Regions from separate parts of the Homo sapiens genome. Here regions 2, 3, 4, 5 and 6 are each reported to be linked to region 1. The links are microRNA targets in miRTarBase. Many come from high-throughput screens and were not tested one by one. Region 1 holds a microRNA gene; each other region holds the end of a gene's coding sequence.

Region 1 (5,069 bases):
CAGCCCCCCACCTGGGGACCCCCGAATCTTTCAGGTGAGGGGAAACTCATGGAACCCAGATGCAGGAGAGATGAGATGTTGCTGTCTGCCTCAGCCCTGGCTGGCCCGAGGACACTGCCTAGGCCTTGTGTCCTGATTGGGACTCAGCGTCTCCCCTAGACGTCGCCACTTCAGTGGGACCTAGGGTTGTCAGTCACAGAGACCACCCAGGCAGGATGTGTGTTTGATAGTTCATGGTTTATCTTTAAACCTTCTGTTAATTTCCCTTCTATTCCATCATCTCTTTATTGTTATGTAAAAATATTGTTTGAAATTATTCACTTGCGGCTGGGTGTGGTGGCTCACACCTGTAATCCCAGCACTTTGGGAGGCTGAGGCAGGTGGATCACTTGAGGTCAGGAGTTCGAGACCAGCCTGGCCAACATGGGGAAACCCCGTCTCTACTAAAAATACAAAAATTAGCTGGATGTGGTGGTATGCGCCTGTAATCCCAGCTACTCGGGAGGCTGAGGTGAGAGAATCCCTTGAACCTGGGAGGCGGAGGTTGCGGTGAGCAGAGATCACACCATTGCATTCCAGGTTGGGCGACTGAGTGAAACTCCGTCTCAAAAAAAAAAAAAAAGAGATCTTCACTTTCTCACGTGGACACCTAGGAGGAGATGCATGTTGATATTGTGGCTTTGCATGCCCTTGGCATAGCATGGTACACTCCTGGAGGGTCAGGTCCCCTCCACCGAATTTTTTTTTTTTTTTTTTTTGAGACGGAGTCTCACTCTGTCTCCAGGCTGGAGTGCAGTGGCTAGATCTTGGCTCACTGAAATCTCTGCCTCACGGGTTCAAGCAATTCTCCTGCCTTAGCCTCCTGAGTAGTTGGGACTACAGGCGTGCGCCACCACACCCAGCTAATTTTTGTATTTTCAGTAGAGATGGGGTTTCACCATGTTGGCCTGGATGGTCTCAATCTCTTGACCTTGTGGTCCGCCCACCTCGGCCTCCCAAAGTGCTGGGATTAGAGGCATGAGCCACCATGCCAAGCCCCCTCTACTGAATTTTAGAAGCTTACACCTTTTGGACAAGTCCAAACTCCCTTTGCTTGGGCATTGAGGCCCTTCATGATGTGGTCCTTGCTTAGAACCTTAGCCTCAGTTCTCATCATTTTCCTACTTGATGCTCTGGAGGGCATGATCGAACTGCTCAGAGGTTCCAGAATATACCTCTGTGCCTTTGCACTTGCTGCTCCTGCTACCTGGAGTACATTCTCTACAGCAGTCTACATGGCAAGCTTCTACCCCTCTTTTAGGCCTCCTTGTCTGCTCACCTGGCCCAGGGGGTCACCCTTTCTTTGTGCTGCAGTCCTCTGTGGACAGCATCTCCTTCTGTGCAGTTTATCATGTTGCCATAATGATATTATATCATTATCACTAAATAAACCAGTATGGTTTGTTTAATAGACAGACCAAGTATGGCTGGATAAGTCCCTTCTCTGAAGCTCTTAGAATTGACAACTCTGTGCTTGAATGTCCACATTCCATTCCATTGTCTCACAGCCCTCATGATAAAGTTCTTTCTCTTGAATTGGTAGGTACTTTCATTCATTCATTTAATGATTCAAAAATGTGTAGTGAGTGCCTAAAATATTCCAGGTACGGATCTGGGTACTACATTTTTAGGAGAAGATGACACATAGTTTATTTTTAAAATTATTTTTTAAAATTAATTAATTAATGTTTTAGAGACAGGATCTTGTTCTGTGGCCCAGGCTGGAGTGCAGTTGGGCAACCATGGCTCACTGCAATCTTGAACTCCTGGGCTTGAGTGATCCTCCCACCTCAGCCTGCCCAATAGCTAGGACTACAGGCAAGTGCCACCACTCCCAGATAATTAATTTTTTTTTTTGAGACGCAGTTTCGCTCTTGTTGCCCAGGCTAGAGTGCAATGGCATGATATCGGCTCACCGCAACCTCTGCCTCCCGGGTTCAAGCGATTCTCGTGCCTCAGCCTCCCGAGTAGCTGGGATTACAGGCATGTGCCACCACGCCTGGCTAATTTTTGTATTATTAGTAGAGATGGGGTTTCTCCATGTTGGTCAGGCTGGTCTCAAACTCCTGACCTCAGGTGATCTACCTGCCTCAGCCTCCCAAAGTACTGGGATTACAGGCGCAAGCCACCGTGCCTGGCCACAACACGCAATTAAAATGACCCTTAAAAGCTCCTCAAATTGCCAGGACATGGATCTTTAGGAAAAGCAAAGAATTAACTCTGCCTTCTTTTTGCATTTCTTCAGTAGCTCCCCTTGCAGAAGAAGCCAAAGTCCGGCTTGAAAGGGAGGAATAAGTTTTTTTTCCTCAGCGGATAGAGTTGGATTCTCATAAGCTAAGCGTGAACTCAGGCCACACTTTCAATATATTCATTGGTCCTTTCAGTGCCTTCAGCCCTTGGCACCTGGGGAGGAATAAGTGGTCACTCTGATGAGAAAGTTGGGGTCACAGGCTGGTGGGGACAGACATGGCCCCAAGTGATTATAAAACCAGGTGGAATAAAAAGTGTCCACACATCCTGTGTGTACCAGAATGCAACTGGAACACCCCCCACTGCCCCCTTGTCCAGGGTCTTGCCTTTGCCTGGTTCCCCACCAGAGTCTCCTCACCCGCACCCCCAACCCCCATGCCCATGCCCATTCCCCGGACTCCCGCCCTGCAGGGATACTCCTTTGTGGCACCCTCCATTCTCTTTGACCACAACAACGCGGTGATGACCGATGGGCTGGAAGCGCCTGGTGCTGGAGACCGGCCAGGTCGGGCAGCGGTGGCCAGGAGCGCTATGATGCAGGTGGGCTGGGCTGGGCTGGGTTGGGGGGAAATTGGTTTTAGGAGAGGCCTAGGCCCGGGGACTCTAGGCCTAGATCCAACTGGCGCCCGCAGCGTGAGCTCAGCAAGGTCCTAAGCCTCTCCGACATGGGGCGTGGCGGGGCCGCGGGGCTACCAGGTGGGACCTCTGACGCGCCGCCTTCGCCTTCGCCTTCGCCTTCGCCTCCAGGACTCGCCCTTCTTCCAGCAGTACGAGCTGGACCTGCGGGAGCCTGCGCTGGGCCAGGGCAGCTTTTCTGTGTGTCGCCGCTGCCGCCAGCGCCAGAGCGGCCAGGAGTTCGCAGTCAAGATCCTCAGTCGCAGGTGGGAGGGCCCAGGCGCGGGCAGGGGTGGGGGTGGCAGAGCGCTGTCCCGGGGGCGGGGCCGAAGCGCGGCGACCGTAACTCCTTCTGCTCCGTCCCCCAGGCTGGAGGCGAACACGCAGCGCGAAGTGGCTGCCCTGCGCCTGTGCCAGTCACACCCCAACGTGGTGAATCTGCACGAGGTGCATCACGACCAGGTGATGGCTTCCGGCCAGGGGAGGGCGGAGAGAAAAGGGGCAGGCGGCGGGGCTTGGGGGCACTATGGGCGGGATCTAGGGGTGAATTGGGCGGGGCCTAGCGTTTGATTCGGGGCCCAAAGGGACCAGGGAGGCGCAGGGAGTGGAATTTGAGGGGAGTAGGGCCTGAGGACGGGAAGGCGGAGCTGAGGATGGACAAGAAAAGGGACTTTGGCCGGGCGCGATGGCTCACGCCTGTGATCCCAGCACTTTGGGAGGTCGAGGTGGGCGGATCACTTGAAGTCGGGAGTTCGAGACCAGCCTGGGAACATGGCGAAACCCCGTCTCTACGAAAAATACAAAAATTAGCCGGACGCGGTGGCGTGCGCCTGTAATCCCAGCTACTTGGGAGGCTGAGGCACGAGAATCGCTTGAACCCGGAAGGCAGAGGTTGCAGTGAGCCGAGGTGGTGCCACTGCATTCCAGCCTGGGCGACAAAGCGAGACTGTCTCCAAAAAAGTAACAAAGAAAGAAAGAAAGAAAAAGGACTTTGAGGAGGGGGTTCTCGAACATTGGCAGGGCCCGAAGGCCGGGGGCGGGGCCTGGGTGGTGGGAGGGGGCTTGCCGCCGTGGGTGGGTGTTGACCTTGGCCCGCCACGCCGCCCGCAGCTGCACACGTACCTGGTCCTGGAGCTGCTGCGGGGCGGGGAGCTGCTGGAGCACATCCGCAAGAAGCGGCACTTCAGCGAGTCGGAAGCAAGCCAGATCCTGCGCAGCCTCGTGTCGGCCGTGAGCTTCATGCACGAGGAGGCGGGCGTGGTGCACCGCGACCTCAAGCCGGAGGTGGGCGAGCTGCCTCGGCGGCGGGGCGGAGCGGTGGCGCCGGGGGCTGCCTCTGACCACTACCCCGCCGCCCTCGCAGAACATCCTGTACGCCGACGACACGCCCGGGGCCCCGGTGAAAATCATCGACTTCGGGTTCGCGCGGTTGCGGCCGCAGAGTCCCGGGGTGCCCATGCAGACGCCCTGCTTCACGCTGCAGTACGCTGCCCCCGAGCTGCTGGCGCAGCAGGGCTACGACGAGTCCTGCGACCTCTGGAGCCTGGGCGTCATTCTGGTATGGGACGCGGTCCTTGAGGCGGGGTCAGGGTCGCTCGGACCTGGCGTCTTCCTGATGTGCAGCAGCACGAGGGAGGGGACAGGGGTCATCTTGGTGGGGGCGGCTGGGTTTCGTCCGAAGCTGGGATCGGGGTGGTTCAAATACAGAGGTGGGGTCGCTCTGGTGCTAGAGTCGGAGCATCCGGGTATTGGGGGTTAGAAGTCAGGGTTCACCACGCGTGGGTCTCAGGAGTGCCCCTAGTGGGGAGGGTGAGTGGTTCTGTGGGAGCGGAGGGGTCAGCCTCGGCACCCCAGCCTGGGCCGGCCTCACCTTCCCCTCACCCTCCTAGTACATGATGCTGTCGGGGCAGGTCCCCTTCCAGGGGGCCTCTGGCCAGGGCGGGCAGAGCCAGGCGGCCGAGATCATGTGCAAAATCCGCGAGGGGCGCTTCTCCCTTGACGGGGAGGCCTGGCAGGGTGTATCCGAGGAAGCCAAGGAGCTGGTCCGAGGTGCGGAGCTGGAGGTCATAGACCATGGTTGGGGAGGGGGACGCTGGGACAGGGATGGTCACTGGGCCAGGTGTCCTGGTTGGGGATGGGTAGGGGAGGAGAGTGGGGCTGTTACG
Region 2 (5,069 bases), not on the chromosome of region 1:
GTAACCACTGATCTGCTCTATACTTCCATAAGATCGGCTTTTTCTTTTTCTTTTTTTTAAGATTCCACGTATCAGTGAGAACATGTGGTATTTGTCTTTTTGTGTCTGACTTATTTCACTTAACATAATGTTCAGGTTCAAATAATTTGTTTCAAATGACAGGATATCATTCTTTTTCATTGCTGAATAGTATTCCACTGTGTAGATATACCACATTTTATCCATTCATCCATTGCTGGCATTTAGGTTGACTTCAATTCTTGGCTATTGTGAACAGTGCTGCAATAAACAAGGGAGTACAGATACCTCCATTTACCCACTGGTGGGATTGCTGGATCATATAGTGCTCTACTTTTAATTTTTTGAGGAACCTCCACAGTTTTCCTTAATAGAGGTACTAATTTACATTCCCACCAACAGTGTGTAAGGGTTCTATTTTCTCTACATCCTCACCAACACTTGTTTTCTTTTGTCTTTTTGATAAGAGCTATTCTAACTAGAGTGAGGTGGTATTTCATTGCAGTTTTGATTTGCATTTCCCTGATAATTAGTTATAACATTCAATTTCAATTCCTTTTTTTAAAAACCATGAACATATACTCTTTTTTTTTTTTTTGAGACAGAGTTTTGCTTTTGTTGCCCAGTCTGGAGGGCAATGGTGCAATCTTGGCTCACTGCAACCTCCGCCTCCCAAGTTCAAGTGATTCTCCTGCTTCAGCCTCCCGAATAGCTGGGATTCCAGGCATGTGCCATCACGCCTGGCTAATTTTGTATTTTTTAGTAGAGATGGGGTTTCTCCATGTTGGTCAGGCTGGTTTCGAACTCCTGACCTCAGGTGATCCACCCGCCTCGGCCTCCTAAAGTGCTGGGATTACATGCATGAGCCATTGTGCCTGGGGAACATATACTTCTATAATTTCTATTCCTTTAACAATTAAAAACCTTTTAAGGGGCCAGACACGGTGGTTCACACCTGTAATCCCAGCACTTTGGGAGGCCGAGGTGGGCAGATCACGAGGTCAGGAGATTGAGACCATTCTGGCTAAGATGGTGAAACTCCACCTCTGCTAAAAATACAAAAAATTAGCCGGGTGTGGTGGCAGGAGCCTGTAGTCCTGCCTGGGTGACAGAGAGAGACTCCGTCTCAAAAAAATAAAAAAAAAAGTTTTAAACGAGAAACAATTATTCTCTGCAGCAAACTCTAGATATATACCCTCATTCTGTAATCCTGTGTGAGTTAGTTCAAGCATATAAATAAATTACTTAAGGCCACATGAATTTGAAGTTAATACAGGTGAGCATTTCTATAGTCTCGGGAAAAAATTTTTTTTAACTTTTTTTTTTTTGAGACGGAGTCTCACTCTGTCGCCCAGGCTGGAGTGCAGTGGCGCGATCTTGGCTCACTGCAAGGCCCGCCTCCTGGGTTCAAGCAATTCTTCTGCCTCAGCCTCTGGAGTAACTGGGACTACAGGCGCGTGCCACCACGCCTGGCTAGTTTTTTGTATTTTTAGTAGAGACAGGGTTTCACTGTGTTAACCAGGATGGTATAGATCTCCTGACCTCGTGATCCACCCACCTCAGCCTCCCAAAGTGCTGGGATTACAGGCGTGAGCCACTGCACCCGGCCTTAAAACTTTTTTTGATAAAGAAAACAAAACAGGTTGGATGCAGTGGCTCACACCTGTAATCCCAGAACTTGGAGAGGCCAGGAGTTTGAGACCAGCCTGGGCAACATAGTGAGACCCCATCTCTACAAAAAAAAATTTTTTTTTTAAAGAAAACAAAGCACACTATTTGTAGAAATCTACAAAAGGGTAAAGAAGGAAAAAAAAACCCACTGGCTACCCAGAGAAAACTTGAGTTAATGTTTTTGGGACATTTCCTGCAAAAGGCAAAGTGCCCAGTGAAGTTGAACCTGAAGCCTTGTCATAATCTTTTGCTGATGCCTTGATGCCATTTTGGGGGATGGGGGAGGTGGCCTGGCAGTTTTGTCTTCCTTTGTTTGGAAAATCCAGCAGAATGGGTCTTGCACATTGCAAAGGCAAACATTCACCTATTATTCTTGGAGAAAACAGTGAATTTACCTGAATTCTGCAGGAAGATGTTGCAAACTGAGATATGAAGTGTTCTGCCTTAGTAAGGATCAAATGGTCTTTTAGCCTAACCTTTCTTTGAAGTGCAAGAAATTGATTCCCCAGGAGTGTCTTTAAACTCAACTGCATGTCCTCCTCCACAGAATCATTTTAGATAAAATACTGGGTCTGTGTGAAGGGCACACAATTATGTAGGCTGTGGGGTGGCTCATCTGGATCCAGGGTCTCTTAGCAGAATGCTGGGGGATTTAGGAAGTTTCCCACCATGGAACAGTTGGTAGGCAATGGCTGCCTCCAGGCGTCAGGTGTGACTGATGCCACCTGCCCTGCCTTGGTCAGTCAGCCCACATTGCCCTGGAAACCAAGGTGACGCCTTGTATTTGCAAACACCAGAGAATAAAGCCTAGGCAGATGGATCAGACCCTGGTGGTAAGAATGCGGATGGACCCTCTGGTCTCAGCTTGAAAGAGGTGGAGTCCTGCATCAAACCTACTATGCCAAACTCCTTCCCCAGAAGGAAATAGGAGAAATATCCTGCAGGCAAACAATTCTGTTCTAACTAGGAAATGAGGTAATCTACCAAGTTCAAGCAGAGAAGAGGGCTTGAAAAACCAAGAAATAAAAAGTGGGAAGGAGGTAGACCTCTTGAAGCCCACCTGGCAAGAAGCAGATTTACAGCTTGGTAATATTATGCTTAAGCCCATAAAAGCAGAAAAGATAGGACAGTGGGATAGGAATCTGGAAGTAGAAGACAAGAGGTAAGAAAATGGGATACTGACTTAAAAAAAAAAAAAAAAACCCAGACATCTGACTTGACACTCTCCGTCTTGTTAATTTCTTCAATGATGATATTAACTAAGAAGGGGTAGGAAGAGAATTGGGGAAGGGGTAGGAAGAGGAGAATGCTGAGAAGAAAGTCTGGCTGATGGGACCAGCTCGTCTGGATTAACTTTCTAATCTTCTATAGAGGAGGAAAACCAAGGTCTGGAGAAGAGATGCAACTCTACTCAGAGTCTGCATGTCCCCCCCAGCCTGGGACACGTGGGGCCTGAGTGCATGTCCACAGCCATCTTCCCCAGCTCCCTCTCCAAGGGGCCACCCAGCCTCGCGCCGTGCCCAAGCCCTGGCCCAGGAGAATCTCTCCGAGCCCAGATACCCTTCCGGGCCTAAGCAGGCCCTACTCTCCCAACCCTCAGTTACCTTCTGGGATGACTCCAGCCAGTTGCCCTGGTGAGGGGGCTGTGTCACAAGGGGGCCTGGGGTCCCTCAACCTGGCACCCATGCAGTGTCCCCCGACCTGGCCTGCCTGAGTCCTCCCACACAACAAGCCGACTCAGGGGCAGGGAGGGGGCCTCCACATTTTATTAGGGATACGGCAGAAGCAGAGGCAGGAAGCAGAGCAGCCGCATTTTAAACAACACATAAATTAACCGCAGTGCGGGGCTGGGGGCTGGGGGCTGGGCCAGGCGCTTCAATATATAAAAACAACAACAAAAAAGACGGACGAACAGACCCCAAAGGCATGGGGCAGAGGAGGGCAGCACCATCCAGACAGCAGGGAGGACCAGGGCAGAGAGAGAAGGCAACTTGTCCCCCTGGCCCCCAAACTCCACCAGCACGGGGGCCTCCAGGAGGGCCTCGCGAGGGCTTCGGGGCAGAGGAGCAGCCGGGTTGGGCAGAGATGGCACGGCTGGTGGGCAGGAAGCCCAGCACCACAAGATGGCTCAGCCTGAAGTAGGGACTGGAGGGCTGCGACACAGTGGCCTTTAACCCCCAGTCCCTTCCAGGAAGAGCCTTACTCTGGGTGAGAGAAGGGACCAAGGGCGGGGTCTCTCCCTGAGCTGAGCACGGTCATCTCATCCGCCGAAGCAGTGGGTGGTGGGGTGTGCCAGGGACCCCCTTTTCACCTTCTTATCCACCTGCCTCCTTGGTCCCTTCAGGGAGGGGTCCCCGTCTCCGGGGGCTGGGCATGAAGAGAGCCGGTCCAGTCTGTGGTCCCCAGCTCCAGCGGGGCCGTGGCGTGGCGCAGCCCCTCAGCCCTGACTCCCACAAGAGGACAGCGAGTCGTAGAGTGAGTCACTGAGAGACTCCGAGGTCTCCAGCCCTGGGGGGCCCCCGCTGGCCACTCTGCCTTCCTCGGCCATGTCCGAAGTGCTGGGGGTGCGGCTACCCCCGAAAGGTGGGCCCTGGGGCGTAGGGGACGGGCGGCTGGGCTCCTGGCTTCGCTTCCGGTCCACGGGCAGGGCCTGGGAAAGGAGGGGCAGCTCGGGAGGAAGCTCCTCTCCACCTTTCGGCCCAGCCTCAGAGGCACTGAGCTCTGAGGGGCGTCTGTGCACCTGATGGGGGGCTGCTCCAGAGGGGGCCCAAGGTGGGGTATACTTCAGAGGAAACAGGCTGGAGGTACAACTGAGAACAGTCCTACAAGGTTCTGGGGAGGGACAGAAACCTTTCCCCACGAGAGAAGTGCAAGGAGGGCAGTGGGGAGGGCCGCTCACAGGGCATCCCAGGGGTCCTCCTCCCAGAGGGTGCAGCACTGAGACTGTGCGACACACAGGCCGTACCTTACTGGAGAAACTGGTCTCCCCACATCACTCCCTCCTGCTCCCGAGTCCTTTCCCTTTCCTCTGCTGCAATTCTCACCATGGGGGTCCTGGGCAGCCCCTCCAGTTGTCGGGGTGGGCACATGAGAGGGTCCGAGGAGCTGCCGGCTGCCCTAGTATTGGGGAAGGTCCAGTTCTTGGCCAGCTGGACAGGAGGGGTGGGGCCTGGGTCTTCACAGGGATCTGTCCAGGAACAAAGGGAAGGTGGATGGAGCTGCCTGGGCAGCTCCAGGATGCCCAGGGGCATCCCACCCTCCCACCTGGACACTCACCATCAGGACAGGTCTCATGGCCCCGGTGGCCCGGAGCAGCGGGTAGCAGTGCAGGGAAGGCTGGCATGCTGGGGTGCCGCCCACTCACCAGCAGCTCCTCTATG
Region 3 (5,069 bases), not on the chromosome of region 1:
TCACACATAGATATTCATTTGTTTGGCAGTCATTTATTGCCACCTCCTTCAGTTAAAGAGTGAGATGCAGGGGGTCAGAGCCCATGCCTACCGTGTCCACCACAGTCCATCCAGCACCCAGCCCAGGAACTCACACACAGGAGGCCTCAGCAGGACTCCAGGCTTTGGGGTCAGAAGGAACTGACTGGATTGGGTCCCGGTATAAGAGGGAGTTTGCGCAGGGTACTTAACCATTTCTACCTCAGTTTTCAAATTTATAAAATGGAGACAATAATAATATCTTACTATGGAATTGTTGTTGGAAGTTAATGAGATTAGTAAACACCACATAAGGTGATAATTGAGTATTAGACATTAGAGGAACGTATTAAAGAGATTTCAGCAAAGTGCACATGGGATGAATGGAGGAAGGAACTCCTGGGCCTCCTTCCTGGATGCTCTCTGGTGCATGCTGGCCCCACTGCTCTGCACTGACTCCCTTCTCTTCCTCCATTCAGGGACCCCTGATTGAATCCCCGGCAGATGACAGCCCCCCACACCATGCTCCGCCAGCCCTGGCCACCCCCTCCCCAGAGGAAGGAGAGATCCAGTATGCATCCCTCAGCTTCCACAAAGCGAGGCCTCAGTACCCACAGGAACAGGAGGCCATCGGCTATGAGTACTCCGAGATCAACATCCCCAAGTGAGAAACTGCAGAGACTCAGGCCTGTTTGAGGGCTCACGACCCCTGCAGCAAAGAAGCCCGAGACTGATTCCTTTAGAATTAACAGCCCTCCATGCTGTGCAACAGGACATCAGAACTTATTCCTCTTGTCAAACTGAAAATGCGTGCCTGATGACCAAACTCTCCCTTTCTCCATCCAATCGGTCCACACTCCCCGCCCCCGGCCTCTGGTACCCACCATTCTCTTCTCTACTTCTCTGAGGTCGACTATTTTAGGTTCCAAATATAGTGAGATCGTAGAGTGTTTGTCTCTCTGTACCTGGCTTATTTCACTCAACATAATGTTCTCTAGGTTCATCCGTGTTGTTCCAAATAACAGAATAATGTATTGAATATTTCAAAATGGCTAAAAGAGAGGAGTTTAAATGTTGTCACCAAAAAAAAAAAAAAATTAAATATTTGAGCTGACGGATGTGCTAATCATGCTGACGATGGTTCCACGGTGCATCCAGGTGAGGGAGCCTCACTGGGGCTGCGTTCAGGTCGCTCCGGTACTCAGGGCAGGACTGAAATTTAATCCCTGCCTGATTCTAAGGTCTCTTCTCTCATTCGGCACTGAGTGGAACAACCACTGATTGGCACCCCTTGGCCATAAGTTTACAGCATCGCTGTTGATTCCATGGGTGAAGAAATCTGAGAAGCTGGAAGCGCCGGAGCTGAGGGAGGAGGCGCTTGGAATTAGAGCCCAGCTTTGCGCATGGCCCGCCCCGACCTGCAACCCATTGACCAGCTCTGATTGGCAGATGAAGCGCCCAATGGCCACGCTACCCACGACATCATCTTCAGGTCCCGGGTGGGGTCTGCAGACCTCCTACTGGAGCCTCCATCTCCAGGCTTCCGTGTGACTGGGCTGGGTCCCTCTCTTGCCAGTACCCTCCAAAGAGACCCTGGACCCTTTTCAGCCTCGCTGGCCCTATGGGGACCCCCAGCCCTTCTCCATCACCCTCTCCTCACCTGCTTGCCCTTCTGGTCTTGTCCTCAGGTCTGGGGTGGACACTCATGGAGCCCGATTTGTCCTATGGGGAGAAATCAGGGAAGAAGCCACATCTCAGGTCCCTAAGAAACATGGGAGAGTCCTGGATAGAGAGAGGTGAAGGGGCCCGACTTCCCACCAAGTCCAAGCCTAAGTCTTCCTCACATGGGACCCAATGGAGGAGATGGTCTGAGGGCTGCACCTCTGCACCGAGAGTCCTCAACATCTCCATACTTTTAAAGATTTCCGAGGGCACTGGAGGAAGATGCCACTGTGTGGGGAGAAAGAGGCCGGGTGAAGCTGAGGAAGGAGTGGGCACTGTTGGCCTAATTATGAGGGATCACAACAATGATGGAGGTAATAACAGTAATTTACTTCATACCAATTATATGCCAGGCACTATAACTTATGACAGGGTTATCTTTAACCCTCCCAACAGCCAAGCAAGACAGATACTTTAACCCATTTGCAGATGAAGAAATGAGGGTCCAGAGAGGTGATGTTACTTGCCCCAGGTCACACAGCCAGAACATAACAGAGGCCAATATTCCCAAACTGGCTTCTCTGATTCCAGATCCCTGCTCTCATATCGGAGGGGAGGCCCCAGACCATAGAGAACATGGCGCCTTTGAAAGGAATGGGACAGTGGCGTGGAGGTGGTTCTGCCAGGCCAGGGGGGTTCTTCCAGGTGGTGGAAGATGAGGTGATTCAGATACACTCTTTGAAATACCCTTGAACTTTCTTGAGTTTATCACAATCAGTTTAGAATTGCACATTGAATAATATGATGGCATTAATAATAATATCTGAGATTTTATGAAGTGCTTACTGTGTACCAACCCTTCTTCCAAGGTAATTACTACTAAGAGCTTACTTTATCCCCATAGGAGATATCCCTGTGAGGTTTGGACCAGTGTTAGTTCCATTTTACACATGGCAAGTAAAGCACAGTCAGGCCGATTGCCTGCTATCTCACTGTATGGTCGACATTGTAGGCTCCTTGGTGAAGGGACCATATAATAATCATAAATAGGCTCAATATCTAAATATTAAGATAATTGAAGATGTATCTTCTAAAATCTTTAGATAACATAGTGAAAACGCATACACGTATGCTGTGTGTCTCCTCAGCTCCCTCTTGCCCCACCATTTATTCTAGGAAATGCCACTCCTGTGCCTTTTGGGTGGTATCCAGATCCAATCATGATTAAAATATGAGTAACTCCAGGGTGATCTTTTGGGGAGGGAGAAGGGGAGCTGAAAGAGGGGGCTGGATCGTGGTAGCTGTGATATTACTGGGGGCAGGGAAAGCAGTTTGTTCATCTTTTGTTCATCAGAGGCCCAAGAATAAAGCCAGGAGCTTGGTGAAATGTGGGGGGACCGAGAAACTGAATGAGAGACAAATGAATGAGTCACTGAGGTTGACTTAATGTCAACCTAATCATCCAAAATTTCACTTTGGATGATGAGGTTGACATTAAGTCAACCTCAGTGACTCATTCATTTGTCCCTCATTCAGTCTCCATCAATGACTTTGAACACAAGGATAGAAACCCCTGGAAACTTTTCGTCTGAAGAAATTCGAGTGGAAGCAGGATCATTATGGACAGAAGCACTAAGGCCCATTATACTTTTAGGGATCACAAAAATGTTTCAATTTCTTCTAAAATCAGAAGGAAAAAAACTGAATACAACCCACCCTATATTTTATACATGTTTATATCAAGATAGTCGTAAAATATAATTTTTAATATTTTTCTAGAGGAGGGCCCACAAAAGCAAAAATGCACCCCTGGATGGAATCCATTCCGTAAAACAGAAATGGCCCTGCTCTTAGGGGAATGAGGAGGGATTCTGGAGCCCTGTCCACATGAGTTCCCTGCCCCACTCCAAACTCTGGCACCTTCTGCAGCCCTTGTGAAGAATGTGGTTCCAGGTCCAGGAGGGGCCTGCCCCCAGGGAGGAGCCCACCCTAAGGCAGGGGCCCACCCCTTCTCAGCTGAATTCTCTGAGACCTTTTGTCTTGAGACCTCTCTTGAAGACTAGCCAACAACCCTGCATTTCCAAGACCTCGCTGACCTCCCAGGCGAGGTCTTGTATTTAGATATTGAACCTATTTATGATTATTACATGGTCCCTTAGCAAAGGAGCCTACAACATTGACCATACAGTGAGATAGCAGGGAGTCAGCCTGTCTGTGCTTTACTTGCTATGTGTAAAATGGAACTAATACTGGTCCCAACCTCACAGGGATATCTCCTATGGGGATAAAGTAAGCTCTTACTAGTAAATACCTTGGAACAAGGGTTGGTACACAGTAAGCACATCATAAAATCTCAGAGATTGTTATTAATACCATCATATCATTCTGTTTCTGCCCTTGACCTGAGCCCCTCCCCACTATGTCATGGCCACTCTCTCCATCTGCTTTTGCAATCCCCTTTTCTCTGCTCTTCCCTGAATATGAGAATTCTGTTTCCACCTCGAGCTCTCTTCTCTTCCCATGCAGCATAGTTCCTGGGGTTGGGGTGAGGGACAGAGGAGGGACTAGTGGTTGTCTCTTTCTACTTTTTCTGGTTTTGTTTGGTTTTGTTTTTACTCTTTAAGAACATTCTACATAATTGGTTTACAGCAGTGCTGTCCGGTAGAACTTTTGGCAATGACGAAATGGTCTATATTGGCACCGTCCAATCTCATAGCCATGAGCTGGTGTGACTGAGGAGCTGGATTTTTTACTTATTTAATTTTAATTCATTTTAAACTTAGTCACGTATGACTAGTGGCTACCATATTGGTTAATTCATGTTACAGGCCTTTTCTTCACAGATTATTTACTTATTTATTTTTGAGATGGAGTCTCGCACTGTCGCCCAGGCTGGAGTGCCATGGTGTGATCTCGACTCACTGCAACCTGCACTTGAACTGCACTTGAATCTCCCAGGTTCAAGTGATTCTCCTGCCTCAGCCTCCCAAGTAACTGGGATTACAGGTGACTGCCATCACACTTGGCTAATTTTTTGTATTTTTAGTAGAGACGGGATTTCACTATGTTGGCCAGGCTGGTCTCGAACTCCCGACCTGATGATCCGCCCGCCTTGGCCTTCCAACATGCTGGGATTACAGGCTTCAGCCACTGTGCCTGGCCTATTTATTTATTTTTTATACAGGGTGTCTGTTGCCCAGGCTGGAGTGCAGTGGCACGATCTCGGCTCACTGAGCCTCTGCCTCTCGGGCTCAAGAGATCCTCCCACCTCAGCCTCCTGAGTAGCTGGAACTCCAGAAGCACTCCACCACTCCAGGCTAACTTTTGTATTTTTTGTAGAGATGAGGTTTCACCACGTTGCCCAGGCTGGTCTTGAACTCCTGGGCTCA
Region 4 (5,069 bases), not on the chromosome of region 1:
TCATCTATTGGACCCTCTTTACACTGGGCCTGGATCTTTCTTGGTAAGTCTCGCTTTGAAGCCTGGGCAGGCTGGGCCCTGTCCTATCTCGCCTGCACCTAGCCTGGTGTGTCTCTGGTTCATTATAGCTAAAAAAGGACACATTACCTATTCACATAGACCCTCACAGGCACAAAACAGAACATGGGAGTGGGCCCCAAGGGCAGATGGCCAAGAGCCAGTGGCCTTCTATGTTCCAGCCTCTCCTGGCAAGAACTCTTCTTCCCCACAGGTCCATCAGCCTAGCCTTCAAGTGGTGTGAGCGGCCTGAGTGGATACACGTGGATAGCCGGCCCTTTGCCTCCCTGAGCCGTGACTCAGGGGCTGCCCTGGGCCTGGGCATTGCCTTGCACTCTCCCTGCTATGCCCAGGTGCGTCGGGCACAGCTGGGAAATGGCCAGAAGATAGCCTGCCTTGTGCTGGCCATGGGGCTGCTGGGCCCCCTGGACTGGCTGGGCCACCCCCCTCAGATCAGCCTCTTCTACATTTTCAATTTCCTCAAGTACACCCTCTGGCCATGCCTAGTCCTGGCCCTCGTGCCCTGGGCAGTGCACATGTTCAGTGCCCAGGAAGCACCGCCCATCCACTCTTCCTGACTTCTTGTGTGCCTCCCTTTCCTTTCCCTCCCACAAAGCCAACACTCTGTGACCACCACACTCCAGGAGGCAGCCCCATCCCCTTCCAGCCCCTAAGTAGGCCCTCCCCTCCCTAAATCTGCTTCCGCACCACCTGGTCTTAGCCCCAAAGATGGGCCTTCTCTCTCCCAGATAAGTTGGTCCTCCCTCTGCCTTTCCTCTCAAGCCCCCAAAGAGCAAAGGCAACAGCAAGACCAGCGGGTTCTTGCAACACTGTGAGGGGCAGCCAGGGCGGCCCCAATAAAGCCCTTGAATACTTTGAGATTCCTTTCTTGCCTATGCGCACATCTCCATGGGCCTTGCCTGTGTGTGCACAAGTGGAACCTTTGCCAGGCTGCTCCAGTAGTCTCTGTGCCATCTCCAGCCCTGTTTCCAGGGGCAGAGAGGCAGGAAAGGAGAGGGCTGTAAACTCAGGTGAGACCTCTCAGCCCTGGGTCCCCTGCCTCATCACTGCCTAGGCCACATGAGAGGTCCCATGAGATGCTGTGACTATATTCGGTATAACCCTGTCTTTTCACTTACAGGACAGATCTTGCGCCCCAACCTCCAGTTTCCTAAATCGGCTTCTAGTCCAGGGGCTGGAGAAAAGAGTAGTGTGTTTGGCTAGGAAGGAGGATGAGAACCTCTACTCCATTTGGGAGCCCAGAGAATAGAGACATTGGCCCCAGAAGGCACTGCCAGAAACAAGTTTATTTACACAAGGACACACAGTGTAACGGGTTACAAAATACTTAACTGAAATCCATATCCAGGGAGACAAAGCAAGGAGTGGGTTTACATGAGAACCAGACCAGCCACAGGGAGAGAGTGGGTAAGGGGCCGGGAGCCTGGGGCTCAGCACAGAGAGGCCTAGTACACTGAGCCTGGCCCCATCCCCATCCCCCAGGAGGATCTAAAACAAACACACAAGCACACTATGAACCGATGGTGCTGGGACTCCTGCCCCTCCCCTGGCTCCCTCAATCCTGCTCAGGCCCCCATAGGATAATAAATATGTAAACAGATTGGTGGGGCCCTGGAGATAGAAGGAGAGAAAGTATATGTGGTACTGGGGAGGAGGAGGAAGGAAGAGTCAGCCCCCTAGGAGCCACTTCCCATCTTTGGTTTCCTACAGGCTGGATGGCATCCCCTGGAAGCCTTGTAGGCCCACAGCCCCTGGCAGGGCTCCTGGGAAAGAGAAGGGACAGCGCCCAGCCCCCTCCTGGTCTTAGCTCCCTTGGGCTGGTGGTCAGCAAAGGGAGCCCAGAAGGTATGGAAGCTCCAGCTGAGAGCCGACTCCTGGATCCCTGGGTTCTGGCCTTACCCCTTCTAGAACCTCCATTCTCACCATCCCCAGGATCCAAAACAAAAGGCCCCAGGAGGGAGGTGAGCCTCTGCCCCTTCTCCCCGCAGCATGCTGGATGGCTGGGAAAATCTGGTCCTGACAGCAGGGGGGCTCTCACCAGCCTGGAGCCCCTCTGCAGGGACCACCTTCTCCCCTTGCCCAGGCTGTGCCAGCAGAGGGGCAGGGAGGCCATCCGAGTAAGGTGGGGAGCAGACCTGGTTCTGTTACTCCTCCTGGCCCCTGAGAACCCAGGAAACCAGTCCTCTCCTTCCCCACACACTTTCACCCTCTCAGCCCCGGGGAAGGGGAAGTAGGCTGTGAGGAGTGTGAGGCAAGACAGCCCTCCTCACAGACTGCAGGCCACAGCTTGGGCACCAGCCTCCCATCAGTGCTGAGACCAAGAGGAAGGAGGAGGAGAGGGGTCTGCAGAGATGGTGAGGACGAAAGAAGGGGAAAGGGTGGAGAATCGCAGGGTGGGTGCCCACCTCCCCTCCACTCTGCATCTTAAAGACAGTAGTGGATCCTCCAGATCCTCCCCTGAGGCTGGAGAAGGGAGGAGAGTGAAATTAAGGCATTTCCCCCCAAATCAGCTGAAACCAAGGCACCGACTTCCCGTTCCCTCCTCACTCGGGGGGCCCCAGAACTGGAGAGTACTGTCTGGGCCCCCGTGCCCACCTTGAGCTGGCCCAGGCTCCAAGGAGGAAAAGGACAGACAGAATGCAGGAAAATGGGGGGAGGGACACATGGGACAGGGCTGGGAAGACACCACCACCCCCTGCAGAGGGAGCAGGCTTCTAGAGCTGAGGTGGAAGCCACAGGGCTGGGGGCCTGAGGCAGCGTAGAGGAGCAGGAGGGGCAAGGCTGAGAGACCCACACGGCACACCTTGTTGAATGTGTGACTTTTTGTTTTTAATAGAAAAAATAAACAAAATCACAATGGTGAAGCCCAGAGGGATGGGGGCCGGGGCGTCACAGGGCAGGCTCCTGCTCCATGGGCTCCTCTGCCGGCCTGTGGGGCAAGCACAGGGGAGGGTATTGAGTGGGGCGCACCAGCAGGGGTGAGGGCAGAGAGGTGGTGCGGGTTGCTGCTTACCTGGGGCTGTGTTCCCGGGCTGCCGCAGCCTGGGCCTGCTCGGCCCCCACCGACAGCAAGGCCATGGCGCTCACAGTCTCGGCCTCCTCGGTCTCACCTGCTTGGGCCTCTCGCAGGGACCGGCCCAGACCAGCGGCGAACTTCTGCACACAGCTCCAGTGTTTGCCTGTGGACGAGAGACAGGCAAGGGGTCAGGGAGGGCAGAGGACACCCACATGAACAGTCCCAGTCCTGGTGCTCCCACAAGCTCCGTGCCCCCTTGGCAGCCTGAGCCCCTCTACGTGTCCTCACGCACTCTGGATCTCGATGACTTTCTCTAGCGTGGCCACTGCGTTGATGTTGGGCTTTTGCTGCAAGACTGCCTCATCCAAGGGCTGCAGCTGGCAGGGGAAAGAAGAGAAGGCTTAGGGTGGGGAGTAGGGTTGCCATGCATACCCCTCTAACTGCCCCACTCAGCCCCAGATATCCCTCACAACAGGGGCAAACATGGCCTTTTTGGACAAACGCATACTCAGAAAGCCTGGCCATTAGCTGTTCCTTAGGACCAAGGAAAAGCTTCCTAAGGGGCTCCCAGTGCTGGCTGACCCCTTGCTGGCCCCTCAGACCTCTGGCCTGCCACCTCCCAGCTCCTTCCCACCCCTTACCTCTACACTGAGCAGAGCCGAGACACAAGCCTCAGAGGCATCACAGATGGCGGTCAAGTCATGGCCTCCCTCCAGGGCCAGCACCACCCGGCCCCCTGCCAGGGTCATCAGCTGCCTGGTCAAGTGGCCAAAACCTTTGAGGATGGGTGAAGGGAGGAAGAAGAAATGGCGAAAGGTAATCAATCAATTCAAGAGCCAGTAAGAGGAGAGAAAAAAGGCCAGGCGCGGTGGCTCACGCCTGTAATCCCAGCACTTTGGGAGGCCAAGGCGGGCAGATCACAAGGTCAGGAGTTCGAGACCAGCCTGACCAACATGGTGAAACCCCGTCTCTACTAAAAATACAATAATTAGCCGGCCATGGTGGCACGCGCCTGTAATCCCAGCTACTTGGGAGGCTGAGGCAGGAGGATGGCATGAACCCAGGAGGCGGAGGTTGCAGTGAGCCGAGATCACGCCATTGCACTCCAGCCTGGGTGACAGAGTGAGACTCCACCTCAAAAAAAAAAAAAAAAAAAAAGAAAGAAAAGGAGAGAAAAAGAAACACAAGAGGTGGGACAAATAGCACAAAATGTGATGGGAGATATAAACCCAAATATATCCATAATAAAATACAGCATCAGTGAACTAAATGCCCTATCACAGTCAAAACATTAACAGACTGGCTGAAGACTCCAATCCAATGACAAGGAGCATCACTGAAACACCAGGGACCAACAAGCCCATCTCTACAGCTCCGGCAGGATACATCCTCTATCCTCTGCTACCCCACTGCCACCTCCTATCCCCTCAAGGCCGGGGTTGGCAGAGGACAAGTTGGGGGAGTTACCAAGATGATTCCAAGTCTAGGCCCTGCCCCCTGCTTTCCCCGTCTGCTGCAATATCAGTCTGTTCCCTGCCCCATGCCTCACTGGACTCGATATCCTCACTGTTTCACTTCCTCCCTCAATCCCCCAGCAGGCTTACATCTGGCGGTGACAGAGTAGCCACCCAGAGGAGACAGATGTCCTTCAACAGCATCAAACCCGGCGGAGACTAGGACCACATCAGGTGAGAACTCGTGGGCAATGGGCATCACCACTGTCCTGCAAAGGGATGGCTCAAGCTGAGCCCGGCAGATGACCAGGCCAGGCCTCGCCCCACTGTTATCCTCCCAGAGACAACCCCCTCTACCCACACTGAACTGAGTGCCTTCTGCCCCTCCCACTGCAGGGCCCAGAGGGGCTCCCACTGACTACCATGGCCCTTTTCAGTCCCTACCTGAAGGCTGTAAGGTACTCCACGTCTCCAATGGGGGGGTCCACACCTCCTGTCCATGCCACGTTCACATTGTACCC
Region 5 (5,069 bases), not on the chromosome of region 1:
TTGCAGAGGGGTCCAGAAGAGAAAGGGTTGGAGGCCTCCACACCTGTGGGCACCGCTCCTGTCCTCTCCACTGTGTCTTGCCTTCTCAGTTTCCTTCTCCTCTGCAGTGACTGTGCCGCCCTCTGTGGTCTCCCCAGGACCAGTGTTGAGGCACCACTTCAGTAGATCCCCCCAGATCCTTGGAAGGTCTGAGTGGCCACGAGAGGGTGGTGAGAGTTGGCAAGGTGGGCCTTCCTGCAGGGACCACGGGGGGTCAGCATCCTTGCCTCCGTTCTAGACACAGGTGAATGTCAGTGGGCACCCACACTGGCGGAGACTCCAGTGTGAGGGCAAGGAGGAGCCTAGTGAGACTGGATCCTCTGCAGGTGGAAAAATAGGACCTTCTCAGAGTTGGCTGTCACATACAAATTAACAGGGACTGTGGGTGACGTTTCTAACAATAATAATTAAAAAACAACAACCCTGCAGCACATGTCAGCCTGGCGTTGGGCAAGTCTGCCACCTTTCTTTTATTTCGATGTGTAATGGTTCACATGATTTGGATGAGAAAAGGAGGGATCAAACTTTATAGACAAAACCCAGCTGTGTGAAAAACAGGATTAATGCCAGTGATTGGGGATGATCAAAGAGAAACCTTACTTTTTCTCCCCCAGTACTCATTCCACTAAAGGGCGAATTGGCAGAGTTCGGCATCCCTGGGGGGAAAGAGAAGTGCTAGAATCATGCAACGTGTGAGTGACGATAATTCCAAGATCAAAACTTACACACTTAATCTGCTAACTCTTATGGTGAGGGTTTCTTGCCATAGATGCTATGTGGGTCTGTTTCTAAGTAGAATCACTATATTACCCCAGTTAATAAAGAAACATGGATTTAGCAGATTTAAGGTTAATATTGTTTAAATTTAAATAACCTTAAAATAAATCTCTTTCTCTTCTATTATGGCTCTTGACAGATTATACATTTCAGGCACCAATTAGGCAAAGCTTTAGCCTAATTCCACTGTACATATTCTAATTTTTGTGTATGTTTAATCATGCCTCTTTTTAAAATTTCCCAAACTTACTCATGTCTCTATATCATAAGCCTGGTTCCCATATTTAGAGTCACACAGAATTTGGACATTTAATAGAATGTTGCAGCCTAAAAGCGTTTCCCCCGAGTGGGCTTGTAGAATGTTTTTTTGGAAACCAAAACATCCTCATGTTTGCCACAGCCTTAGCAGTTGACGGGCCTCATTCTCACGCACTGAAGGGCAGAGACCCCTTGCTGAGAGATGAAGTCCGTGCTGATGTGCAGACAGCCCCTTGCACTCTAGAGAAGCAACGAACCAACCAAATCTCAGTAAAGGACTTTTTTTTTTTTTTTAACGAAGCCCAGTGGGTTATTTTGATTTTTTTCTTTTCCCCCTGGGGTGAAGGGAGGAGAACTTTAGGGAAGAGGGGAGTAAATGAGACCTTTCGGAGCAGGTATCTCCCAAACTGCCAGGGGCCTCCCCGCTTAGCCCTTCAGGCCACAGTCAGTGGAAGCCATTAAAATCCGGGCGTTGCTTTGTAGAGACGCAAGTTGGAGGCTTTTCCACGGGAGAAGTTGCCCTGCTTGAAAAGGCTTCTTAACTGGTCTTGTTAAACCTCCCCCTTGATCATTAGACATTATCTCTTAATCTGCTCCACACTAGGAAGAATCCAGAGCCAGGCCTGTCGCTGTGGGGGGAGTGGGGCACCCTGAAAATCAGCTCAGGTTCTCAACTTGCCCCAGTCCTCAATTTCCCTTGCGACCGAGGGCCAGCAGGGAGCTCTAAACTTCTTTTCAACTTTGTTGCCCCCTCCCTGTTGAGTCGGCGTTTATGAGGGGGGATGGGTCAGTGGCAGAGCGGGGGAAGATGGCTTCTCAGCCCTCTCCTATTGTCAGGCCTGTTGGGGTCCCACATTCATTCTTTTTTTCTTACACGAGAGCTCGCCCAACCTCAGGGTTGGGAACAGAAACCAATTTAGCCTTCTAAGTGGATGGAAGGCAGGAGCCCACCTCACTGCAAAGGTTGTGAAGTTATTATTACAGATGGGATGTGCAGGACAATTTAAAATATTCTAATTATAAACTTGTAGGGAAGCCTTGTTCTTCATTAATGTAGGATATGAAATCGCCTCTGAGGTACAAGGACAATTACATAGTTGAGAATGTGTCTGTGGTTTGCGCTGCCACTGTGTAAATGTGAGGGTGGTTGCTACGGTCTATCTCCTTCACTTTCACAAAATGAAAAGCACACCAGTGCAAGTTGTCCTTTGATAGATTTTTAATATGATTTTAAAGAGTTTTGTTTGGTCTCATTCTTATTCAATGAGATTAATTTAAAGCACTTATCCCCTGGGTTTAAGTCAATCCATGTAGGATTTGGGCAGGGTTTGTTGCATGGGGGGTTTTGTTTGCAGGAGGCTATGAGAGACTCCTTTCCCACTTCATTAACCCTGAGTTGGGGACAGTCTCTCCTCACCCCCCACCAGAGCCAGAGCTGGGGATTTACCAACCCCCATTCACATGCAAAAGAACTCGAAAGCCGAGGGGCTCCTTGACTTAATTAGCTGCTGTGCATTTTGCAAAATTAGAATAATACCCTCGCCATCCCAGGAAAGAAAGCTGCTGTGCGAGGGTGTTTCGGGGCAGGGAGGAAACAGTAGCGGACCTGGCTGTGGGTATGGTTTTCGAGAGGGGTTATAGTCTGAACACAGCCCCCGTCTTCAGAGAAACCCTGCCCCCAAACTAGAGGGGCCACGGCTTGCCGGCCCCCAAAACTTCCCAGCGCTGAGGGTTAGCGAGCTGCAGGTGGTGTGTGGGAAGGGAGCACCTGCGCCCACCTCCCCAGAGAGGGAGCAGTCTCAGGTGACCGTGGCCCTTTGGACGTGAACTGGAAGCCTCGAGTCTGACTCGGGACTTAAACCCCTCTCCCCTGAGATGCTAGAGCTGCGGTCTGGGGCAGCCAGAAGAGATGGGGCAGACGCTGGGATTTGGCTCCCCTCTGGGTCTCATTTCCAACCTCCTCCCGGGGTAAAGGGGAGGTGAGAAGATGTGGGAGTGGGGGTTTACCCGATGTGGCGTCTGGTTCGCAGCGAAGGCGCGCGGAGTCCTGCCTGGTGCGGGAGGCCGGGAGGCCCGGGCCGCCTTGGCGCCCGCGAGCGTCGGGAGCCCGAGCGCGGCCGGACGCTGGGCGGAGGGTGGGAGTGATGGGGGGAGCAGCCTCGGAGCCCATCTGTCGGCCCGCGCCCGGCGGGCCGGTCACCAGCTGCCGGGGCCCTTGTCGCGGCCAGATGAGTCGGCTCGGCGAGGGCCCCGCAGCCCGGCCCGCAGCCGACCGAGGCCCCGCGCTGACCCCCGCCTGTTCCGGCACGGACCCCCGCCCCGGCCCTCGGGACCGTCTGGGAGCCGCTAGGAACCAGATGGAGACAGAGGAGGAGGAGGGGAACAACGAGCTGGCCTCGCTGTAGAGATGGGAAGACTGAGGCCAGGGAGGGGAGACCCGGGCCCCAGCGAGTCCCGTCGGGGCCCCCGCGCATGTCCACAGCACCGGGGAAGAGAAGGGGGACAAAAATGTTTCGTTATTGAGGATGGAAGGAAACCGAGTCCCCAGGAGAGGGATGGGAGAGGGGTTGAGTGCGGACCCAGCGACGCGAGCGCGGACAGGCGCCTGGTCATTTGTAAGAAGTTTATTTCGACATTTAAAAAAGAGAGAACCCGAGAGGCCTGGCTGCCCCCGGACCGGGGCTGAGGCTGGGGGCTGGGGTCGGGGTGGGTGGGCAAGCCCCCTTGGCCCCTTCCTGCCCCGCCTGGGAGTGGGGAGGGCACAGGCCACAGACTCACTAATCCACGGACACGGTCACGGGCTCATGGGTCACGAATAAATAACTTCATATACACTTTGCACACGGTATGTACAGCTCAGCCGCTGGCCCAGGTGCTCGAGGGGTAGGGAGACGGGGCTCCGCACTCCCCTTCTCTCCCTGGCGGGGGCGCGGGGAGAGGGGCTGTTCTCCACCTGGAGCGTAGAAGGGGCGTGGGAGAGAGCGAAGCCTGGGAATCAGCCGCACCCGCTCCTGGGGAGAAAGGGGTTGCCTAGGGGAGCCGGCAGAGGCTGGGGGTGGGGAGTGGCAGAGACGCGTATGTACACCCGGCGGGTGGGGATGGCTCCCGGACAGAGCGGCCGCGAGAGAGGACGCCGAGGGGGGCTGGGGAGACGCAGTCCGGGGTCCGGGCCTCAGTGGACTTGGCATTTGGCCCTTCGGGGGGCACTGGGCTGGGGCGCCAGGGAGGGCCGGGCAGGGCCCCCTCCCGGGAAAGGGCGTCGAACCTGCGCCCTCAGAAAGGCGGGCGGAAGGGGCCACGCCGAGCCCGCGGGAGGAGGCCCCGGAGCCGACGGGCGCCTCACCGAGGCTGCGCGGCGCGTGGGAGGACGCCGGCCAGGGGGGGCAGCGGCGGGGGCGGCTCGCTGGCGCCCTGGAGTCCGTGGATGAGGATGCGGGGCACCAGAGGTCTCTGGAGAGCAGGCGGCGGCGCGCTGGGGCCGCGGTACAGGTAGAGCGCCGCGCCGGGGTCCAGGTTGGAAACCAGACTCTGCGGGTAGAAATAAGGCGACGGGAACATCCGCTGGAGCGCTGAGTAATTGCCTGCCTCCGCCAGCAGCTCCAACCCGACGGCCGTCTGTCGCTTCCATTTAGTCCTGGGGGCCGAAATAAACGCGTATGGCGGGATCAGGGCTAGGGCATCCAGCGACCCCAGCCCCTCCCCACTGCTTGGCCCAGAGAGCCTGTAGGGAGGCCAAGAGGGATCGTACTCATTTGTTAATAAATAACCGAGTGCCAGGCACCATCGCACGCCTTACGTGCATCCTCTCCTTTTATCTTCCACCGGCCTTCCGTGGCTCTTACCCCACTTTACAGAGAGGAAAACTGAGGTCTGGGCCGGTTTTCAAAAAGGAGCCTGGGTTTTAAGCCCTGCTGTCTGACCCCAAAGCCCGGCTCTAACTGCGCCTTACCCTGCCCAGGAGATCGCAGAACGAACCCTTGGAGCTGGGTAGGGGG
Region 6 (5,069 bases), not on the chromosome of region 1:
GGGGCAGTGGGGAGGGGGCGTGTTGGGGAGGGGGTGCATTGGGGAGGGGGCGCAGTGGGGAGGGGGGAGGTGGGGAGGGGACAGGTGAGGAGGGGACAGGTGGGGAGGGTTCGTGGTGGGGAGGGGGCAGGGGGAGGGAACAGGTGGGGAGGGGTCGTGGTGGGGGGACAGGTGGGGAGGGGGCGTGATGGGGAGGGGGCACGTTGGGTGGGGAGGGGGCACGGTGGGGAGGGGGCGTGGTGGGGAGGGGGTGCGGTGGGGAGGGAGAGCGGTGGGGAGGGAGAGCAGTGGGGAGGGGGCAGGTGGGGAGGCCCTGTGGGGAGGCCTGGTGCGGGCCCAGGTGGCTCCTCGTCGCCCCAGGGTGGGGGCCCCTCCTGGAGGCCTGTGGCCAGGCGGTAGGAACAGCCTGGCAGGAGTGCGGTCGCGCCGGGTCTGCAGAAGGGGCTCCGGTGGCCCAATGGCGCCCCCTGCAGGCTGTTGGGGTCCAAAGGCTCAGGCAGAAGCCCCAGGAGTTCGGGGTCCCCAGAGCTCGGGGGCAGCCAGGACGTACACGTTCCACCCCTCCAACCCACGGCACAGGTGGCACGCGCACCTGCTACTGGAGCACACCCCAAGGAAGGCCTGGGCTCGGGCAGAAGCCCCTCCTTGGACCTCGTCCAGCCTCAGCCCTGTGGGGACAGGGCTTTTCCCTCACGTGCTCCAGCTTCCTGAGCGGCTGCTGGCCCGGTCCTGCCCCTCACAGAGCTCCCTAAGAGAGACAAGGGATGTGCGCTCAGCCCACCAGGGCAGTCCGGCGCGGCGCCGGGGCTTAGTCCCCAGGCCTCCGGGGGTCCTTCCCAGAAAGTGGAGTGATGGGCTGGAGGAGGGACCTCCGGCAACCACGTGGGCTTGCAGCGACCCTCACTGGCATGGACCTTGGGGACCGAAAGGGGTCTGGGGTTCAGCCTGGGCTGGGGACAGCTCCTGAGTCCATGGGAGGGTGATCTGGGTCTGCCTGCAGGCTGGGTGAACTCTCTCCCGGGGCTCAGGCTGGGTAGGGCAGGGTGGGGGCTGCAGAGGGGTGCCTGGCAGGGAACGCTCGGGCTGTGGTCAGCTTGTCCTGGCCTATCTCCCTCGCCCCCACCCCCTCTTCCATCCAGCCTGGTGGCTGGCGGCCCCTGGAGAGAGCATGGGGGCATGGGAGTGAGCTTGGAGGGGCAGCCCCACCGGCCCTGTTGAAAGGGTCTTGACCAGCCCAGGGAGGCAGCTGCAGGTTCCACTCCTAGGTGGCCTTAGAGGGGTGGGGGTGCCCCACAGACCTAGCTTCTCCATGTGGGCTGAGCCCTGCACTCCCCTCGGGATTTGGATATTGGCTGCAGGGGGAGCTGGGCAGTGGGTGGGCACCAGGCTGGACAGCCCCTCGGACGGCGGGGTCTCATCCTGCCTGGGACCAGATGGCTTGCACCACAGACACGTGTTTCTCTGGGTTCTGGAGGCGCCAAGTCCGCCATCAGGGTGCTGGCGGGTCAGTTCCTCCAAAGTGCTCTCCCGGCCTGCTGCCTTCCCGCAAGGACACTAATCCCAGCAGACCAGGGCCTCACCCTCACGACCTCGTCTAACCCTCACCCCTCCTTCCAATGGGGCACGTCGGGGGGGTGTTTCTGAGCCCTGCCCTGAGCTGTGGGAAGGGCAGAGCCGAGCGCTGCCTCCATGACTGTGTATGAGGACTCCCACGGAGGCAGCCCCCAGGACAGCTCCTGTTTCCTTGAGCCCCCCACAAGGCGACTGCGTGGATGTGCAGGGGGTCCGGGGCTGCGGAAGTCCAGGCCACGGCTGCGTGCCCAGCTCAGGTCATGTTTACCAGGCAGGCCAGTGCCAGGGCCCCCGCCCGGCCTCGCAGCCCTGAGTTAACTCAGGCTCCAGGATAAACACCCATTCAGCCACACAAGGCCCCTTTGTCCTGGGAGAGAGGCTCCCGGCCCAGGACGCTGCCTGGTGGCCGGTGTCCTCGGCGCGGCCCCAGGCCCGGCCAGGTGCCCTGACACGTTCAGCCGCCCTGCACGGCCTTCTCCGGGCAGGCTCCCGGCTTGGCTCAGAGAGGCCCCAGCAGGGGACAGGGCCCTGGGCAGCTGTCAGAGGAGCCAGAAGGCCAGACCGGCAGGGCTGAGTGAGGAGGAGGACCTGGCAGCCGCCTTGTGTCCTGAGACCTTGTCAGAGCAGAGCTGACCCGGCAAAGAGAGGTGGGAGTCCTGCGGCCGGACATGCCTGTGGGCAGCGGGGAGGCCGAGGCGGGCCGTGCTGCCCATAGGGCAGCTGGTGAGCTCTGGAGGCTCGAGGGCCCTTCTTCTCCCCCATATCCTCAACCCCAAGCAGGAGAGGGGGCCCACACCCTGTGCTTGGCCCGTCTCCCCCGGCCAATGGCCACTGGTCTGTGGGCCTCGGTTTCTCGTCTGTGAAGTGGGCCACGGAAGGCTCTCAGAGGCCCCTCAGCCAGGGATTACACCCTATTGTTACCCAGGCTCGGGGCTGAGATGGGGGTTGCTGCCCACGGGAGGGAGGGGCGCGATGGTCCTGGGAAGCCAGTCAGGAGGTGCCGCAGGAGCACAGGTGGGCTGTGGAGGGGGAGGGAGTGGCCCCCAGGCCCCCCTGAGGCTGGCCCAGTCCCTGCCCCAGCCGTGACTGGCCATGGCCCGCTGTGGCCGTCCATCCCTGTGCCAGGCCCCCTCCTCCAAACGTGCTAAGAACAAATGCACCCTCATGCCCTTGGGGACACCCCACTGGCCACCCAGGCTGAAGCCCCTGCCCGCCCCTCAGCCTCCCTGGCGGTCCATGCGGCTTCTTGGCACCCGTGCCCCGCCCCTTCAGGGTGTCACCCACCTGGTCCGGTCCCTGCATGGCCCATGGCGGCAAGCGACCCCTGGCGGCGGCTGGGGGTGTTGTTGCGCCCACCCGAGGTCAGTACTGCAGTGCTGCTCACCAGGCCAAGGGGCAGACTCGCAGAGCCTTGGAAGCAGGTCCTGGGACTGCAACCCCCAGGCTCAGACACTACTGGGGCCAGGTGACTGCGGCCAGATCTCGGCCTGGGTCCCTCCCTATGTGGGGAGCCCCACTCTTCACTGATGGGAGAAAACGGCTTTTCTGGACGGCGTGATCTGGGCACAGCAGCAGCACCGACCCCTGGAAACAGGTTACAGCGTCAACCCTTGGTCTTGCCTGGCCCCTCAGGAGGCCCTGGCCCTCTGGCTGGTGCTGGGGTCCTAGGTGCCATGGCTGAACCCAGTGACCAGCATCTCTCAGCTCGGTACCCAGGTTCCCGGGATGCCCCAGCTGGGCCAAGCCTCTGCCTGACCAGAAGGGCTCCTGGAACTGCCTTGGGTTCCAGTGTGCCTGTCTGAGTTTGAGATCCGCAGGACGGGACTGCTGGAGATGGGGTTAGGGTCGGGGAGGAAGCCCTGCCGTGTGGAGACAGAACTTCCTCAGGGAAGCCTGTTTTGCTCTGAAGTCTCCACGCCCCCAAGGACGAGGACGACAGGAGCTGAGCAGCTGCACCTGCAGGGGGCCTCCCTCCACACCCACACCCAGGTGAGCGCTCAATTAGCTGGGGCTGCAGGCTCGCCAGGTCGGCACCAGAATCAGAGCCACCGGCATGCATGCCTGGCTGTTCACAGTTTTTGTTTTATATGAAAACTTCCCCGTCTCTACTAAAAATACAAAAAATTAGCCGGGCGTGGTGGCGGGCGCCTGTAGTTCCAGCTACTCGGGAGGCTGAAGCAGGAGAATGGCGTGAACCTGGGAGGCGGAGCTTACAGTGAGCCGAGTTCACGCCACTGCACTCCAGCGTGGGTGAGAGACTGTCTCAAAAAAAACAAAAAACAAAAAAACAAACAAAAAAACGAGTCCATTTGGACTTTGATGTGTGTACCTGAGGCCAGGACCATGTAGCCAACCCGAGGTGGCCGGGGCAGACTGGGCAGGCCTGAGCCTCCTCTATCCACTGGCTGTCCCTGCCCCTCGGCAGGGTGGCCTGAGCCTGGGGTAGGCAGGGACCAAGTGGCCAGCTCTGAGGGGAAGGGAGGGCACCTGCGGGTCGGCTCAGCCTCAGGCTAGAGCTGGGAAACCTTTGCTTCATCAAGACCAGAGCGGCTTCAGTGTTTAAATTGAAAGGAAACTTTTATTGAGTCATGTTTTCAAAGCAATCTAGTTTTTAAAAAAGTTGAAGACAAGACAGAAAAAAGAACATGACACCTAAGAGAATCAGACAGGACAGACAGACGGGAGCAGGGGGGCGGGGACAGCGGCTCCGTGGAGGTCAGATCTTCTCCATCTTGGAGATGAGGTCGTCGCAGATCCTGGTCAGCTCCTCGTTCTCTTTAGTCTGGAGGAGGAAGATGAGTTGCGGGGCTTCTCCCTGCTTGGAGGGAGCAGCAGGCCCAAGGGCCTTCTAGAAGGTGCTGCCAGACGGCCCCTTGAGCTGGGCTTCCCGCACCCACCTTCTGCTCCACTGTCTTCTCCAGCGACTGGATGCGCATCTGCTCCTTCCTCAGGCTGGCCTGGAGGGCCAACGCTTCCGCCTGGGCCTTGCTCCGGACCTGGGCGATCTCCTCGTTTGCCCTGGAGGGGTAGGGGCGGGGCAGAGGCTGAGCTGGGGCCCAGGTGCTCAGATTCTCCCTCCAGGGTGGGGCCTCGCCCAGCACTCACAGCTGCAGCTTCTCCTCCGCGTGGGCCTTCAGGGCTTGGTACCTCTGGCCCTCCTGGGTGATCCTTGCCAGGTAATCCTCCACGCACTTCTTCAGTGACTCTTCGTTCTAGGAAGGGGCAGGCATTAGCTGTGGGTACCACGCCGTCTGCTGGAGAGCACCCAGGCTTGGTGTCTGGGGACCTGCAGATCCTCGAGGCTGTCTGGGGCATCAGCCGTGAGCCAGTAGCTCCCGTTTTCCTTTTGGAAAAAGCCCCTTCACACAAGTTCCCAGCTCACCCCCTCTGGAGGTTCAGGACAGCCCTGGCTCTCCACCCTGAGATGCCGGGCCTGAACCTGGTGCCCTCACGGCTGGGCCCCCTCCTGCCACACCTGCAGCCTCTGCTGGCACCAA

Evidence for each region. Region 1 holds the annotated microRNA hsa-miR-1237-5p (CGGGGGCGGGGCCGAAGCGCG, at 3,220-3,240, shown strand). A microRNA usually pairs through its seed, bases 2 to 8, with sites in the 3' UTR of a target mRNA and lowers its output. Matches are read on the target gene's strand: a 7mer-m8 pairs with bases 2 to 8, a 7mer-A1 pairs with bases 2 to 7 and ends in A, and an 8mer does both.
Region 2: miRTarBase lists NCKAP5L as a target of hsa-miR-1237-5p. Seed matches in the 3' UTR shown: 7mer-A1 at 3,545-3,551 and 7mer-A1 at 3,538-3,544.
Region 3: miRTarBase lists SIGLEC12 as a target of hsa-miR-1237-5p. Seed matches in the 3' UTR shown: 7mer-m8 at 880-886.
Region 4: miRTarBase lists G6PC3 as a target of hsa-miR-1237-5p. Seed matches in the 3' UTR shown: 7mer-A1 at 840-846.
Region 5: miRTarBase lists BARHL1 as a target of hsa-miR-1237-5p. Seed matches in the 3' UTR shown: 7mer-m8 at 3,998-4,004 and 7mer-A1 at 3,764-3,770.
Region 6: the mRNA of TACC3 is a reported target of hsa-miR-1237-5p. Seed matches in the 3' UTR shown: 7mer-m8 at 4,261-4,267.

What each region holds. Positions count from the first base shown.
Region 1 is chr11:64,365,432-64,370,500 of GRCh38, forward strand. MIR1237 (microRNA 1237) reads left to right here and starts at 3,171; the gene lies at 3,171-3,272. It overlaps RPS6KA4 (ribosomal protein S6 kinase A4), which reads left to right. Exons shown (of 17, transcript NM_003942.3): 9 at 1-34; 10 at 2,701-2,829; 11 at 3,037-3,170; 12 at 3,273-3,366; 13 at 4,015-4,188; 14 at 4,268-4,462; 15 at 4,794-4,953. RefSeq lists an enhancer at 3,728-4,247.
Region 2 is chr12:49,787,713-49,792,781 of GRCh38, forward strand. It overlaps NCKAP5L (NCK associated protein 5 like), which reads right to left. Exons shown (of 13, transcript NM_001037806.4): 11 at 4,966-5,069; 12 at 4,734-4,876; 13 at 3,440-4,339. The coding sequence ends at 4,127. Among named protein-coding and RNA genes, the nearest start is that of NCKAP5L, 38 kb to the right of the region's middle. RefSeq lists an enhancer at 3,035-3,877.
Region 3 is chr19:51,487,258-51,492,326 of GRCh38, reverse strand. It overlaps SIGLEC12 (sialic acid binding Ig like lectin 12), which reads left to right. Exons shown (of 8, transcript NM_053003.4): 8 at 498-1,100. The coding sequence ends at 686. CEACAM18 (CEA cell adhesion molecule 18) reads right to left here. Exons shown (of 6, transcript NM_001405061.1): 6 at 1,026-1,740. The coding sequence ends at 1,675. Among named protein-coding and RNA genes, the nearest start is that of CEACAM18, 11 kb to the right of the region's middle. RefSeq lists silencers at 3,425-3,605, 4,849-5,008.
Region 4 is chr17:44,075,409-44,080,477 of GRCh38, forward strand. It overlaps G6PC3 (glucose-6-phosphatase catalytic subunit 3), which reads left to right. Exons shown (of 6, transcript NM_138387.4): 5 at 1-43; 6 at 272-936. The coding sequence ends at 635. It overlaps HDAC5 (histone deacetylase 5), which reads right to left. Exons shown (of 27, transcript NM_005474.5): 22 at 4,993-5,069; 23 at 4,699-4,817; 24 at 3,736-3,869; 25 at 3,387-3,471; 26 at 3,092-3,257; 27 at 1,345-3,007. The coding sequence ends at 2,968. Among named protein-coding and RNA genes, the nearest start is that of G6PC3, 7.2 kb to the left of the region's middle. RefSeq lists enhancers at 1-600, 1,618-2,157.
Region 5 is chr9:132,588,867-132,593,935 of GRCh38, reverse strand. BARHL1 (BarH like homeobox 1) reads right to left here. Exons shown (of 3, transcript NM_020064.4): 3 at 3,684-4,708. The coding sequence ends at 4,414. It overlaps DDX31 (DEAD-box helicase 31), which reads left to right. Exons shown (of 20, transcript NM_022779.9): 20 at 1-939. Among named protein-coding and RNA genes, the nearest start is that of BARHL1, 8.8 kb to the right of the region's middle. RefSeq lists an enhancer at 1,001-1,502.
Region 6 is chr4:1,744,233-1,749,301 of GRCh38, reverse strand. TACC3 (transforming acidic coiled-coil containing protein 3) reads right to left here. Exons shown (of 16, transcript NM_006342.3): 14 at 4,678-4,784; 15 at 4,470-4,590; 16 at 4,131-4,354. The coding sequence ends at 4,289. Among named protein-coding and RNA genes, the nearest start is that of TACC3, 25 kb to the right of the region's middle. RefSeq lists a silencer at 281-480.